Linked DNA regions of Homo sapiens: region 1 is linked to region 2. Evidence: fine-mapped expression QTL. Tissue or cell type: whole blood. Region 2 holds a variant in brackets; the other region holds the start of a gene. All regions are shown on one strand. Distances are from middle to middle.

The links. PIP is the estimated chance that this variant, and not a neighbour inherited with it, causes the effect.
Region 1: it holds the start of AKTIP, and the variant in region 2 is fine-mapped to the expression of AKTIP in whole blood (TOPMed, PIP above 0.99).

The regions. Positions count from the first base shown.
Region 1 is chr16:53,501,843-53,504,342 of GRCh38, forward strand. AKTIP (AKT interacting protein) reads right to left here and starts at 1,367. Exons shown (of 10, transcript NM_022476.4): 1 at 1,305-1,367. RefSeq lists enhancers at 563-1,064, 1,065-1,564, 2,025-2,124 and silencers at 835-1,134, 1,395-1,464, 1,485-1,724, 2,445-2,500.
Region 2 is chr16:53,385,796-53,388,642 of GRCh38, forward strand. No RefSeq gene overlaps it. Among named protein-coding and RNA genes, the nearest start is that of RBL2, 47 kb to the right of the region's middle. The variant G/A (reference allele first, on the strand shown) is at 1,532.

The DNA of each region.
Region 1 (2,500 bases), 120 kb after region 2:
ACAACAGTTCTCCGCAAATCTGCCTTTAAAGGTGAGTATGACACACTGAATATACTTGAGATATCAAAAATGTGCGGGGGCATGTTCCCCTTTGGCTCAAATGAAGACACTGATTTTCAGATCTAGCAGTAATGTGCAGCACCCCAGTGTCCTCTAGGACACACCTAACACGGGACCGGATCCCTTGGGACACAGTGGTGTGCTCCACAACATACATTTAATGGGCTGGTGCAAACCTGTAAAGTCTCTTAAAGGTCTAACGCGTTAGGATTCTCTTTAAGAATCCAGTAAATTTTGTCCCCAGTTCTGCCTGTCATTAAGCAGGAGGTATTGTCTTCTGCTGCCTAACTTTGCTATGGATCTTTTAATCCAATGTTTCCAGCAGCAACATAATCACGAGAAACTGTAGCACACTTTTCAGGGTCTAGTCTAGGACAAGCACAGCATACATGTTCTGAGAGGAATGACATAGATGGAAGCAAGACATGTTACATCCTTGTCACTTGGAAACAATTTTAGAATTTCTGCCTGTTTGGCCACGGCTGCATTCCTTTACATCACCCAGCTGAGAAGTCTGGGTCTTCAGCCTGCGCGAATGACAGTGCGTGGCAGAGCTAAAACTAGGCTAAAACATGAGTGCTGCTGTTACTCTACATGCCACAGCGCACTCACATCACCCCGAATCGGACTTAAGAAATTACACGTTAAGAGGAGACAGAGCAGGGGCCAGAAAAAAAAAGATGAAAACGGCCCGGGCCAGGCTCGCTGGGGACAGCCGGGACCCGCGGCGGCCTCGGACCGGCACCCTCACCGCGGGCGGAAACCCGTCTCTGAGCACTCAGGGAATCTGGACAAACCTGTCTCGAGGTGATGCAAGGCGGGGGCCCTGTCCTGGCCTCGCAGCTAGCTCGATGCTGGCCCGGGAGCCGCGGGCCCCTCCAGTGGGGGGGCTCTGGGGCCCGGCGACGCCCCCTTAACCAGAGCTCGGGGTCGGGACCCGGCCGGGGAGGGCGGGCACGGGCCGGGGCGAGCCAGCTGGGCCCCCCTCTCCCTCGGGCCGGGCCAGCCCAGCTCCAGCCGCAGTCCCCAGCAGCAGTCCCGGGCTGCGAGGCGGCCAGCGCAGCAGGTGCCTGCAAACGCGCACAGGTGCCCGGCCCCGCCTCCGTGTCCCACTGCGGCCGCCGTCGCCGAGTCGCGAGCGCCTAGAAAGATGGACAAATGCCGGGCCCGTGGAGGCTGGCGGCCAGATTTACAGACACCTCAGCCCTCGCGTACCCACCAGCCTGCCGGGCAGTAAGCCTCACCCCAGTGCCTTCAATGCAGAGCTCCTGGCTGCCAAGCGCCGCCGCGGCCCGACAGCATCTCCCGCCGCAGCGCCAGCCCTGCCCCTGCTTGATCCCCGCCCCGCCCCACCCCGCCCTGCCCTGCCCTGCCCTGCCCTCGGCAGCGGGCTCCGCCCCCTGCTGCACGATCCTGGGGCCCGAGGCTTCCGCCTGGCCTCCCGGCGCCAACTGGCTCTCACACCTGCCCGTCAAAGACGTTCTTCCGGGGGCGTTGGGAAGAACACACTCGGTCCTGCAAATCAAATCACCCCGGTTTGGGTGGGACTGCACTTGACCCTCCCCTTACGTAACAGCGCCTGGGACGGCCTGTCAGTCATGGAAGTATCGGCCCCCCGGGGAGGGATGGGGCAGAGACAAACAAGCGCCGGGTCACAATTGGCCAGGGCGTCTGCCAGTCACCACGGAGACCTTCCCGGAGGTTTATTCGCACAGCCCACAGCGCAACCGCCATGCGCAGGGGCTGGGGCATACGCTAACGTCTGCAAGCCAAGCTTTTGGGGAGGGCCGGGCCGCGCGACTGCCCAGTGGCTCCCATCGCTAGGTCCTACTGCGTTGGGCGGCGCTGCGAGGCCCGAGGCCGCCACGTCGGGCCCACAGGGTACCAGGGGTCAGAAGGACACTTGGCGTGGCATCAAGAAACGCCCGTTCTCTCCATCAGTGCAGGAGCTGAAGGCTGGAGCTGAAGGGAGCTCAGCTCCAAGTGGGCCCTGGGCACTAGAGCAGCCAGAGGAGCTTTGTAAATCTGTGTGTGTCGGCCCCGACCTGCAGCATCCGAGTGGGGGCCGGGGGCTGGGGGGAGGGGGGAGGCTGAGGACCAGGAATCCACATCTGTCACAGTTCGCTGCTGATTCTGGCGCACACTGAAGTTGGAGAACCTCTCCCATAGCAACATAGTTCCTGGTCTTTTTTTTTTTTTTTTTTTTTAATTCACACGCTCTCATTTGGACCTCCCGTCTGCTTTCCCATGGAGGTCTCTCTCTGGCCTAATTCTGTGACTGCTGCCAGCTGCTTTCCAGGCCTGTTCTTACCAACGGTGCCTCCCCGTGGTTAGTCCGTCCAATCTCGGCACTCCACTTCCACACTTGCGCGACAGCCCTCTCCCCGCAAGCCCCTGCCCCTTTTCTAGACACCAGAGGCACTGACCTGTCTGTGACACC
Region 2 (2,847 bases):
ATTTGAGATGGAATCTGACTCTGTCACCCAGGCTGGAGTGCAGTGGCATGATCTCTGCTCACTGCAGCCTCCACCTCCCAGGCTCAAGTGATTCTCCTGCCTCAGCCTCCTGAGTAGCTGGGATTGTAGGTGCCTACCACCACACCTGGCTAATTTTTATATTTTTAGTAGAGACAAGGCTTCATTATGTTGGCTAGGCTGGTCTCAAACTCCTGACCTCAGGTGATCTGCCCACCTTGGCCTCTCAAATTGCTGGGATTACAGGCGCAATTATTCCATGTTTTTATTCTTTTCTTTTCTTTTTTTTTTTTTTTTAGACAGAGTCTCGCACTGTCACCCAGGCTGGAATGCAGTGGCGCGGTCTCGGCTCACTGCAAGCTCTGCCTCCCGGGTTCACACCATTCTCCTGCCTCAGCCTCCTGAGCAGCCAGGACTACAGGCACTGGCCACCACGCCCGGCTAATTTTTTTGTATTTTTAGTAGAGACAGGGTTTCACTGTATTAGCCAGAATGGTCTCGATCTCCTGAACTTGTGATCCCCCCGCCTCGGCCTCTGAAAGTACTGGGATTACAGGCATGAGCCACTGTGCCCGGCCTCATGTTTTTATTCTTAAAATTTTTATTTGATTTTTCTGTGTGTCTTCTATTTTACTTCTATTTTTCTACCTTTTCTTTTGATTCAAGCATTTATGTAATTGCTCACTGGGGCCTTTTCATGGGATGTGCTTTAAAAATCTCTTTTTAGAGAGCCCTGGGTGGTGGGGTGAGCATGGAAGTCTGCCTCCCTGCCCCCTCCTTAGCTGAAGGTGGTGGGGATGGAGCCACATTTTTTTCCTGTGGTGTTTTCCTAGAGTTGGGTGGTTACTGTCTAAAAGTTTTCTGGCTTGTTAGGCTGATCCTTTAGTGGGGCTTTTTTTTTTTTCCTCTATTTCCATTACCATTTCCAGGTTGATTCTTCTTCAGCTCCAACTATAGAATACATGAGATGACAAAACCACCCAAGTCCCAGGGGCCTTAGCCAGCCTGCTTTTCTCTACCTTTCATATTCATCTTATGTTTGTTTTAAATATAACTTCCAGCATTGTTATCTACACTTAATAGGAGAAGCAGAGAAAGGTGTTTACTCCATTTTGTCTGGAAGTGGAAGTCCATTGTTTTTATTTTTTAAAGTATTTTATTTTACTTAGCAATCAGCAGTACATAGTAGTTTGACAAAGCAGAAAGTGCATGCATTTCCCTTTCAGTGTTAACTGTGAACACCTGGCTGTCTCTCTTCATGAATATTTATGGAGATAAGTGTTGGGCATTGTAGTAAGGCGAAAAGAGAGATGAAAAGATGAATGGATGAAGAGACAGAAAGAAAACTGGCATTGTTTAGTAATAAATAGGTTTAATAACAAAAAAATTAATGTTACTCAAATTTAAAAAGAAAAAGTAACTAGAGAACTAAAGAAATTGCTGTTCTTCAAGAGAACTATATTGAACAAGAGGAAATCCTTGTTTTGTAATATTTCTCTATGAGTGAAAGAAA[G/A]AAGGTAAGACAGTTATGAGAGACTCAGTATGTTTGTGTCCACATGATTAGACATTCAACCTTGCTTACATTTCTTCTCCCTCTCTTTTGTCCTCTATGGACTGTTTTTTAAATTGTTGTAAAATTATTTTTACTTTGTCAAGATTTACTTATTTAAATTTTTGTTCCGGACCCATATTTATTCCTGTAACTGTTTTTCTCAATTTAACATTTAAATTCTCATTATACCATGTGTTCTACATTGATCAATTAAATGGTTCCAACCACCCTCTTACAAGGACAAAAAAGAAAAAAATATGTCTGGTCTTAACAACAATGTAGTAAGCCAAGAAAGAAAAATAAAATGTATAAAGATTGGGGTAAAAAAACAGCCCTCATTACCATTCATTCTGTAGTAATTTTATTCCCTAGTTCTTCATTGTGATCCTCCCTTTTTTCTTGGGTAGGGGGGTGGATTTAAGTATCAAGTAGTTAAAATGTTCTCCTCTCAACCTGTATCTTGAATAATGAGAAGAAAAATGTTCTTCTCTTTGTCTTTGCACGTTTGAGAATCCCTACTAAATTTATTAGCTCCATAATACATTTTTGTTCTCAGAGTAATTCATAGCTTTTCATCTCTCTTTTTAAAAAAATCATGTTGGGTGGTGTGTATTTCATTAAATTCATGTCCTTATTGAATTACTCTATAGCACAAGCATTTTTAGAAGATTTCTTGTATTCCTTGGATCTTAGTTTTCCCAGAATGTGTTCTTCCTTGGATGTTTTTCATACCATGTTCTTTCTCTCCTGTATTGGTGTTATTTCTGTGCATAATGATAATGACAGGATCCTTTTTAAAAAATATTATTGATCCTAACGTGGCTGGTTTTAGCCAGACCTCTAATTGGCTGTGATTAGTACAGATGGGTTCTTGTAGACACTCCTCCAAAAATATTTGTGACATCTGTCTTCTAAGCTGCATCTAATGCATTTGATGTTGCATTCTCTGTTCCTTTTTAATAGCAGAGGCCTTGGGGTAGGGGATGGGAGAACCTGTCTAAGAAAACCTTTAGCTCTTTGTTGTAGGCCTGAAGACTGTTCTTTCCCCTCTCAACTTTGAATAAATACTCCTGGGGTCTCATTCTCCCAACTCTACATATTGCCTCAAAAATTGGCAAGCCCCTGGCAGCCCCTCCCAGTGTCTGCAGAAGAGTAGTGTATAAGGGCTTCTGCTCTTGATGGTGTATTTCCTTGATTTTTCCTCTCAAGCTGCCTACTCTACCTGCATCTCCCCATCTTTTAACAGTGCCTATTAAATGATGGCCCATCAATATTGT